2 separate regions of the Homo sapiens genome follow, and region 2 is linked to region 1. Evidence: fine-mapped expression QTL. A gene starts in region 1. The other region holds a variant in brackets. All regions are shown on one strand. Distances are from middle to middle.

Region 1 (5,344 bases):
CGAGACTCCGTCTCAAAAAAAACAAAAACAAAAACAAAAAAAAAAGCAAAAAAACTGATCTCAATATGTGTGACCCTCCTGGAGCTTATATTCAAGTCAGGGAGGCAAAATGAACAAGTCATTTTTATGACTTGTTCTTATGGAGAATAACAGGGATGGAGAGTGCAGATGGGCCTGCAGATAGGGTGGTCAAAGATGGCCCCTGGGAAGAAGGCAGCCGGGGGAAGAACATTCCAGGCACAGGGAACAGCAAGTGCAAAGACCTGGGCACAGAAGTAAGCCCAGTGCCTTCTAGAACCGTGAGAAAGGCCACAAGGCTGTTGCAGAGTAAGAGAGAGGGAGAGGGGAGGTGACACTGGAGAGGATGGCAGTGTGGGATCCTGAGGCCAGATCCTGAGACAGGTTTTCTTTATCTGGAGCACGGTGGGAAGCCTGAAGAGTCTGAAGCAGGGGAGTGACATGATCACTTCTTTTTTAAGTGCTCCAGCTTCTATGCAGAAGATGGAGAGTACTGGGTCTGCGGCAGAAGCAGGGGAGCCAGGAGAAGTCTACACAGCCTCCCCGGTAGGAAGTGGCAGGGGAGATGGCACCTGTTTAGAGCAGCGCCAACAGGTCTCGCTAATGAATGGCATGAGGGTGAGGGAGAAAAGTATTCCTAAGTTCCTGGCATGTGATGCCGCAATGGTGCCATTTGCCATGATGGGGAAGACCAGGGAGGCAAAGATGGGGAGAGTTGGGCCACCATAAATTCCCTGTTGTACATGGTACCTGGGAGAAGCCTGCCCCCAAATCCTGACGGAGCTATCCTGTGGTGGGTGGGTCAGGCATTGGCTCTGGAGTTCAGAAGAAAGGTGGGCGCTCACAACAGCCACGCAGGGCCATGAGCAAATGTGTGCTAAGTGGGGATGCCCAGGGGGTCCCCAGGGGCTGCTCATTCCTCTCTATCCCACAGCCCGGGTCTCCCTGCGCACCCCAGGTACCTGCAGCGTCTCCGAGGCCTGACTGGCCATGCCGGTGGTGAGGGAGGCCACCTGCACGGCCTGCTTGCGGGCAGCTAGCAGGATCCTGCAGTAGGTGAAGCATATGGCACCCGAGGGCAGGAAGAAGGTGAGGCCCGACGCCACAAGGACAAAAGGCAGGCTGGCCAGCAGGCGGCACTGGCCAGGGACGGGTGGCCGTGCGTGGCCCAGCTCGTGCCAGCCCAGCAGCAGGGGCAGGAAGGAGGCGAGAGCGGCGAGGCTCCAGGCGCCCAGGACTAGGGCCAGGGCACGCAGGGGCGTCATGCGCAGCTTGTAGCGCAGCGGCGAGAGGATGAGCAGGTAGCGGTCCAGGCTGATGAGGCAGAGGTTGAGGATGGAGGCGCTGCAGCACATCACGTCGAAGGCGGTCCAGAGCAGGCAGAGGCCGCGCGCCAGCACCCAGCGCCCGTACAGCGCGTTCAGCATGGCCGGCGGCATCACCACCAGCCCCACCATCAGGTCAGACGTGAAGAGCGACACCAGGAAGAAGTTGGACGTGTTGCGCAGCGCGGGCTGAGTGCAGATGAGCGCGATCAGCAGCGAGTTGGCCGCCGCCGTCAGCGCGATGACCACGCACAGCGCGGCCGCCACCCAGCCGCTGCCCCCCGGGGCCGACGGCGGCCCTGCCCCCCAGGCCGGGGTGCTATTGGCGGTTGGGCCCGGCTCTGGGACCATGAGGACCGAGGGTGGACGGCAAGGGAGTGATAGGGTGGCGGGAAAGCAGATGAGGGCCCCGGCGAAGCGCAGGCTGGACGGGGACCGTCCGTGAGAACAGACCGCGACTCACCACGCCCCCCGGGGGAGGTGAGTGGGGGGACATGGGCGGGGGCGCTGGGTCGCGCTAGGTCAGGGGGCAGCGACTACAGGAGGACACAGTGTGGCTATTTGGGCGCCCTCGGGGATGGGGCAGGAACTCCTGGAGCAAACGGGTTGGAAGTTTGGGGAGGGGCACCCGATGAGCCGAGGCCCCTGAAGGAAGCGGCGGGAAGTCAAGCAGAGGTCGGATGGGCTCCCTGGGGTGGGAGCAGAGCCCCCTGGAGGGGGCGGGCGGCAAGATAGGGGAGGGGCGTCCGGCCGGGTCAGAGTGCGGGGAAGTGGGAACGCGGGGAGGTGGGTGAGGGGGGTGAATGGGCGCTCTCGGGCCGGAGCAGGCTCCCCGCGGCCGGTGGGCGTGTGGGGTACCAGGGCGGGGGCCTAGGGGCCGGAGCAAAGCCGCCCCTGGGAAAGGCAGGTCTCAGCTGGCGCGGAGGCACCGGGATCCGGCGCACACGGCCTGTGCGGCGCGGGGGTTCGCCGGGGCCGCCAGGCCCCGCGGGAAGAGGAGGGCAGCGGCCGCGCGGCGCCCCCTCCCCACCCGGCAGCAGGGTCGCCTCCGTCTCCCGCCCGCACTGGTACCTGGGGCGCTCTGGCTGCTCCGCCGCCTGCGACTGCGGCAAGCGCCGCGGGGCTGCGAGAGGAAGAGGCGGCCGCGGGCCGGGCGGGCGGCGGGACCGGGTCTCCCGAGCCCGGGAGGCGCCGCGAGGGGCCCGCACGCGCGGAGGAGAGGCCGGGTGCAGCCTGGAGCGCGCGGTCCCCGCGCCGCGGAGCGTGCGCCCCGCCTCGCGGTGGGCGGGGAGAGCCGAGCCCTGGCCCTGCAGGAGGGCGGGGTCCCGGCACCCCGGGCCTGTGGGCCGAAGATCAGAGCGCCCCAGCTGCGAGGGGTCACCTCCCGGGCTGTGGCAGCCCCCACACCCTCAGATGCCCCTCCCAACCCACACGTGGCGGCGGCGCAGGCGGAACTGGGAGCAGGGGGCTGTGACCTGCCCTTATCCAGGGGCTGCTCTCTAATGGGTGCCTGCCCACTCACAACGGGGTCACCGGGCTTTCAGGGGAGCCAGGAGTTGGGAAATATTGGACAAATCGCCTGACACCCCTCTGGGCCTCAGTTGCCATATCTGTAAAATGGGTTAGTAATTCTGGGCATTCTTCACCGTTAGTTTGAGCAAGAAGCTAACCTTCCCCAGGGCCTTTCCCGCAGAAACCATCCCGATCCCCAAAGGGGCCAGGTACTAAGGATGAAGTCCCTGAGCTGTTGGCGCTCCTAGTCTAACAGAGCGTGAACAGATTTGAGAATCCCCAGGCCAGGTGTGTTAAGAGTCGCTGCAGGCAGAGGCGTGGGGTGTGGTTTCCCCTGGGTGTGACCTCCCTCTGTACGTCTCCCCTCTGGCTGAGAAGAGTCTCTGCCTAACACTGCTGTGCAGGTTAATACTGTTATTCATTCATTCATTGAACAGATACTTCAATGCATCTTTTAAGGCGCATCCACTAGATGTCAGGCACTGTTCTGACCCATCAGGACACTACAGTGGCCAAAACAAAGATCCGCACCTCCATGGAGCTTACATTCTAGTGGAAGAAACAGACAATAAACAATAAGCATAATCAACAGAGAAAGTGGGCCCAGCGAGGTGGCTCACGCCTGTAATCCCAGCACTTTGGGAGGCGGAGGTGGGCAGATCACCTGAGGTCAGGAGTTCGAGACCAGCCTGACCAACATGGTAAAACCCCGTCTCTATCAAAAATACAAAAATTAGCTGGGCGTGGTGGCGGGAGCCTGTAATCCCAGCTATTCGGGAGGCTGAGGCAGGAGAATTGCTTGAACCTGGGAGGCAGAGGTTCCAGTGAGCCAAGATTGTGCCACTGCACACTCCAGCCTGGGTGACAGAGCAAGACTCTGTCAAAAAAAAAAAAAAAAAAAAAAAAAAAAAGGAAAGAAAGAAAGAGAGAAAGGAAAGAAAGAGAAAGAAAGAAGAGAAAGAGAAAAAGAAAATGTAGTATAAAGAGAACGGGGTGGGATCATTTTTTCTCCACAGAAACAGAAAAATAATACTTTCCAAATCGAAGGCTCCTGCGCTGTCCCCAGGGGCTTTGTTGTACGGTTCCTACTCCTCCAGTTATTTATTCCGACCCCTACAATAATGCTGAGAGGTAGACGTTAAACTGGGGTTCAGAGAGGCCAAGGGCCTTGCCCCAGATCACCAGCAGCAAGTGGTGAAGTGGACCTGAAACCCAGATCTGCTCGATGCCCATGGCAAAGAGAGCCCATTACAGATGGTCAAAAACCTCCCCTCAGGCACCTCAGAGCCTGCAGCACCCACCCGCCAACTCTAAGCTGCTATTTGGTGCTCAGAGCCCCAGCCTTGCCCACAGAAGCATCTTTTAAGCAGATAGAGGAGGCCTGTCCTTCCTCCTTGCCACCACACTGCACCACTGTGACGATTTCTGCCATGCCCCCAAGGAACAGAACGTAGTACAGCAAGCCTGGGCAGAGAGTCAGAAACACATGGCTTGGGATCCCCGCTCCATCCCAGCTCTGGGATTACAGGGCCAGTGGCTCCATCTCCTTGGGTCACAGCTTTCTCTTCTGTAATAGTTAGCAGAACAATATGGCACCCACCTCACAGAGTAGCTGAGGGGATTAAATGACACTGATGTAATCTGTGTCTTTGATACTATGTTAACACTAGCTGGCCGGGCACAGTGGCTCACGCCTGTAATCCCAACACTTTGGGAGGCCAAGGCGGGCAGATCACCTGAGGTCAGGAGTTCGAGACCAGCCTGGTCAATATGATGAAACCCCGTCTCTACTAAAAATACAAAATTAGCCAGGTGTAGTGATGCACGCCCATAATCCCAGCTACTCAGGAGGCTGAGGCAGGAGAATCACTTGAACCCACAAGGCAGAGGTTGCAGTGAGCTGAGATCACACCACTGCACTCTAGCCTGGGCAAAAACAGCGAAACTCCATCTAAAAAAAAAAAAAACAAAAAAACAAAAAAACAAAAAAAAAACCTAGCTCTTGGCTTTAGTGTTCCCATCAGCACAATCGTAATGCATTCAGCTCTGTGCTAACTCCTTGAGCCCAGGGATTTCTGACGTGAACAGCTGCAACCCTGAGAGGTGCTGTGTGGAAGGATTTTGGAGCCCAGCATCCTGGGTTCATCATCCAGAGTCTGCCACTTGCTCTGTGAAGTTGTGCAAAGCCTCTTAAATTCTCTGCTGCTATGAAACCAAGGCAGTGGAGCTGTGAATGAGATGAGTAAAAAATTTTGCCTGATAAATGTTGCTTTGTAAAAATCTGTAGGTAGTGCATAGAATATTAGTCTTTCTGCTTTCACTTTTCCCACAATACTTGATATCTTTTATTTTAAAAAAAAGACCTAAAGATTAGCTGAGCGTGGTGGTGCACGACTCTAGTTTCAGCTACTTGTGAGACTGAGGTGAGAGGATTGCTTGAGGCCAAGTGTTCAAGGCTGCAGTGAGCTATGATCACACGTGTGAATAGC
Region 2 (5,367 bases), 26 kb before region 1:
GCCATGAGTCCACATTTTAAACATACTCCTAAGGGTTCCCATGCAGCTAAAACTAGGCTGGGGTGCAGGGGCAGATGGTCAGAAAGAATTCTTGCAGTGAATGGAGTGGGAGGGCACCTGCTGGGCAGCCACACAAACCCAACTTGAATTTCTTTTCTTTTTCTTTTTGTTTTTGTTTGAGATGGGGTCTCACTCTGTTGCCCAGTCTGGAGTGCAATGGTGTGAGCTCACTGCAACCTCCACCTCCCCAGTTCAAGCCATTCTCCTGCCTCAGTGTCCCGAGTAGCGGGGATTACAGGAGCCTGCCACTATGCCCGGCTAATTTTTGTATTTTTAGTAGAGATGGGGTTTCACCATATTACTCAGGCTGGTCTTGAACTCCTGACCTCAGGTGATCTGCCTGCCTCAGCCTCCCAAAGTGCTGGGATTATAGGCATGAGCCACCGTGCCTGGCCTTTTTTTTTTTTTTTTTTTTTTTTTTTTTTTTTTTTGAGATGGGGTCTCGCTCAGGCTGGAGTGCAGTGGCACAGTCTCGGCTCACTGCAACCTCTGCCTCCCAGGCTCTAGTGATCTTCCTGCCCCAGCCTCCTGAGTAGCTGGGACCACAGGTGTGCACCACCACATCTAGCTAATTTTTTGTAGTTTTGGTAGAAACAAGATTTCACCATGTTGCCCAGGCTGGTTTTGAACCCCTGAGCTCAAGCAATCCACCCACCTTGGCCTCCCAGAGTGCTGGGATTACAGGCGTGAGCCACCGTGCCTGACCAACTTCAGTTTTTTTAGACTTGAAAGAACCTCGTTCACCTGCCACATGCTATCCTAGGGAATTAATAGCTTCCCATGTGGACACTCACTCTATGTCCCGCTCTGCCCTAAGCCTATTTATTTATTTGTTTATTTATATTTTTGAGGTGGAGTTTCACTCCTGTTGCCCAGTCTGGAGTGCAATGGCGCGATCTCGGCTCACTGCAACCTCCGCCTCCCAGGTTCAAGCGATTCTCCTGCCTCAGCCTCCCAAATAGCTGGGATTATAGGCGCCTGCCACCACGCCCATCTAATTCTTTTTTTTTTTTTTTTTTTGTATTTTTAATAGAGATATGGTTTCGCCATATTGGTCAGGCTGTTCTCAAACTCCTGACCTCAGGTGATCCACCTGCCTTGGCCTCCCAAAGTGCTGGGATTATAGGCATGAGCCACCACACCCGGCCTGCCCTAAGCCTTTTACAGACATTACTGTCCCCATTGTACAGACAAGGTCACTGAGGCTTAGAGACATTCCAGGGTCACACCGCTGAAACATGGCAAAGCAGGACTCAAACCCAGGTCTGAAGCCAATAGATGTAGCCCCAGCCCAGGTAGATATGAGAACCAGTGGGAGAGGTGCTCCATAGGGGGAGGCGGGGAGGGGAGGAATAAGGAATAAGCTGTAACTACAAGCACAAGCCGACTTCAGCAATCAGGGGACCCTGAGAACAAAATCTTTGGTTTCTAGTTATTATGTTGCTGGCTGCCATTTATCAAGTGCCAAGTGCTTCCCACATGTAACCCAGTGTATTAGTCCATTTTCACGCTGCTGATAAAGACATACCAAGACTGGGTAATTTATAAAGAAAAAGAGGTTTAATGGACTCAATTTCACGTGGCTGGGGAGGCCTCACAATCATGGCGGAAGGTGAAAGGCACGTCTTACATGGCAGCAGGCAAGACAGAGAAGAGAACCAAGTGAAAGGGGTTTCTCCTTATAAAACCATTGGATCTCAGGAGACGTATTCACTACCATGAGAACAGGTTGGGGGAAACCACCCCTATGATTCAATTATCTCCCACTGGGTCCCTCCCACAACACATAGGATTTATGAGAGTACAATTCAAGATGAGATTTGGGTGGGGACACAGTTAAACCATATCACCCAGTTTCCACTCATGGTTGTTTGAGCAGCTGCTTCCTGCAGACAGACTAGACTCCTTTCTGGGCATCTAAAAATCCCCTGGTTTGAGGGGCATTCTGGCTTCCCCATTCAGGATCAGCAGCTGCCTGTTCTGATCACTCCACCACTGCATCTCAATGGCCAATGAAGCTAGGCCTCAGACCCACCCGTGCCACCACAGTGTGGCTCACACTGGGCTGCATGTGTTTTGAGACTTGACTGAGCATTTGATAACATGGGGGAATTATTGCACAAAAAAACAAAATCAAAACTTCACCAGGTGCTGCTGTCCATAAAGTCTGTCAGCCATGTCCCTGCCCAGAGGTCACCTGGGCCTCTCACCTGGCCTGACACCAGGTCGCTGGGGCCAGTTCACTTGTATCTTCACCCCTAAACTTCCAGGGCCTTAAGACAAAATTCCTAACCCACCAGAGGATCACAAATGAAGCCACCCTGTGCCTTCCTAACTGGGAGCTTTGGGGACTGGGGTAGAATAAGAGTCATTTCTAGGCTCATCCATTTATGAAACTGGTTGCTCCTGGTTAAAGAGTCTTCACAGGGGCCGGGTGCAGTGACTCACGCCTGTAATCCCAGCACTTTGGGAGGCCAAGGC[G/A]GGCAGATCACGAGGTCAGGAGATCGAGACCATCCTGGCTAACACAGTGAAACTCCGTCTCTACTAAAAATACAAAAAATTAGCCAGGTGTGGCGGTGGGCACCTGTAGTCCCAGCTACTCGGGAGGCTGAGGCAGGAGAATGGCATGACCCCAGGAGGTGGAGCTTGCAGTGAGCCGAGAGGGTACCACTGCACTCCAGCCTAGGTGACAGAGCAAGACTCTGTTTCAAAAAAAAAAAAAAAAAAAAGAGTCTTCACAGATAGACTTGGCTCACATGCTGTAAACCTCGCAACTCCCTAGAGGAGGTATTAAGCATCCCCAGATCATAGATTGGGAAACTGAGACTTGGGAGCATGGAGTCATAGCCAGAGTTGTAGGTCTGGACTCTGAGCCCAGCTTGGAAGCTGTGCTGCCCACTTCTCTGTGGGAATGAGGTAAGCTGAGTCACAAGACCAGCAAACCACAGTGACAGGAATTTTCTCTCAGCCCCTTGGCCACACTTGCAGCAGGGGCACCCCATCTACTCGGTCCACCACACTCAGCCCCTTGCAGGAGGAAGCACATGAATGAGCAAGTGTGGGCTCTGGCTGACCACTCCAAACACCGACACAAGAGCAAGCTCCATGCTGGGCCTGTGGCCAGACCAGGCGTGTTGCCTCGAGGGGAAAGTGGCAGCACCTGGGCAGGGGTACCCACAACCCTGAAGCCCCAGAGGGGGCGTTAGTGTGCTAATTAGCTGTTTTAGTTCCACCATTGACGGCCCAATAGACGGTGGTGTATTAACAGCTCAGTCGGCCCCTGACCCCATCACGTGGGGCAGCTGCCCTCCACTGATGAGGGCAAAAGGCCAGTATGACAGCCTTTCTGGGTACCCACACTCAGTGGGTCCCAAGCTCTTGTCCAGCATCCAAGAAGAATGAGGACACGCTGATAATTGAAGAGTGAGCAAGGCGAGGAGTTTTATTGAGTGATGAAACAGCTTTTTGCAGAGAGGGGATGAGTGGATGGTTCCCCTACCCAAAGGCAGGAAAGTCCCCACAATGTGGCTGAGTCTGGGGCTTTTATGGGCTCAGAATAGGGGAAGTGTGGGCAAACAGGAACAGAAGTTCTCACTCTGGGTCACAGGTTTCATGTGGGACCAGCAGTCCAGTCTTTCAGCCTTCAGGCTGTTTTTTTGGCTTGAAGGTGGGGTTTCACCAGGGACCCACCCCGTCTGCCTAGGCATTTGGCTGCCTCCTGTCACCATCAACAGGGCTCAGAGCTGATGCCTCCTGACCCATGTCCAGGGCTCTCTGTCCTATTCAAGGTGCCTGCACCCTGAATGGGGTGAAAGGGAGCAGGGACTTTGTGCCTCAGCACCCCAGGAGTCTCCCTTTGCCAGAAGAATCAGAGATAAAAAGCATCTGCTGAAGAAAGTAGCTTTTAATGCTGCAAAGCCCTCACAAGATCTGATTTCTACTGGGAATGGGATATGGTAGGAAGAGCACAGCCTTTGGCACCAGAGAGGCATGGCTTAGAATCCTGGCTCTGCCACTGGTTTACTGGCTGTGTGACCTTGGGCCAGTTACTTAACCTCTCTGTGTCTCAGTGTCCTCATCTAGGAAATGGTGGAAACGCCTAACTTCCAGGGCAGCGCATGTAAGATGCTTGGTGCATAGTAGGCCCTCCTTTAATCCTAGTCCCTCCCGGCCTGCCCCTGCCACCACCCCCAGTTTGTTTGCCTCTGGGACCAGCAGTTTTGGAGACTCCGCTCCCTCCTCAGGCTGTCTTCGTGGCAGCTTCCCAGCTCCTGCCTAATAATAGCTCTTTATCACATTAGGAGTACATCACAAAAAACAGTGCTTTCCTCTTCTGGGTAATTAGAGGTAATTAGCACTGCCTTTGTGCTGGCCTCCTGTTTTCCTTGAAAATGCTTTGCTGGAGAAGTTGCTGGCAAGGGAGGTTTCATTACTGCTGTTGGGGAAATGCTGGCCACCCTCTGCTCCCAACAGAGACCCACAGGACCTGTCTTCTCCCTGCTGGGCCAACCACGCAGCAGGGCCCTTTGTGATCATCCCACTGGGCTGGCCCTGTTGCAGGCAGGGCGCATCTCTGGGGTGAATGAAGCTGCCCTCCTGCCCCTCAGTCTCTCCTCACAGGGACAAGGTTACAGTGGGTGGGGGATTTGCCACCCCAGGGACCAACTCATGAGGCTTCTGGGGCACAGAGATCCAACCCACGGCAAGATTCTCCATGTCCCAGCAGAAATGCCAGGTGGCCTAGAACTTAGCAAAAGGCTTGGCACAAAGTAGATACTTGATAATAACCGCAGTAGCCAACAACTCACATGTTTTACGGGGTAAGTCATTTGATCCTCATAGAGGTCCTGCATAGTGGTAGTAACCCGTTGTACAGGTGTGAAAACTGAGGCTGCAGGCGGTGCCACGGCATGTGAGTGGTAGAGCCGGATGAACCTGGGCTGTTAACCACTGCTTCAGTACTGCCTGCATTCACACATCTCTGTAGCTTCTGGTAGTGGCCTCTAACCCTGTGCCAATAAGCCTGTTACATGTATTATCAAAGCCACACAGCCAGCCCACGTGGTATAGGTCTCTTTATTAGCCTCATTTTATACATGAGGAAATTGAGGTCCAAGAAGTGAAAGAACCCAAAGGGGCCTGATGGGCTTGGAAGGAGTCACTGGGGCAGATGGAGGTGGGTGATGGCAGCCTCTGTTTGGGTAAGTTGGGGTGTCTTTTGAGGCAGGAAACAGGAAGGGCTGGGCCCCATTTGTACCTGCAGGGATCTGGTTCCCACGGAAACCCCACGATGTGCGGGGCTGGCTG

What was found. PIP is the estimated chance that this variant, and not a neighbour inherited with it, causes the effect.
Region 2: its variant is the best candidate, but not a certain one, in a credible set for the expression of HTR6 in lymphoblastoid cells (GEUVADIS, PIP 0.52).

What each region holds. Positions count from the first base shown.
Region 1 is chr1:19,662,104-19,667,447 of GRCh38, reverse strand. HTR6 (5-hydroxytryptamine receptor 6) reads right to left here and starts at 2,573. Exons shown (of 3, transcript NM_000871.3): 1 at 981-2,573. The coding sequence starts at 1,694. RefSeq lists enhancers at 808-1,778, 1,779-2,751 and a silencer at 2,530-2,759.
Region 2 is chr1:19,688,289-19,693,655 of GRCh38, reverse strand. All of the region lies in intron 15 of TMCO4 (transmembrane and coiled-coil domains 4), which reads left to right. Among named protein-coding and RNA genes, the nearest start is that of HTR6, 26 kb to the right of the region's middle. RefSeq lists an enhancer at 4,094-4,608. The variant G/A (reference allele first, on the strand shown) is at 2,542.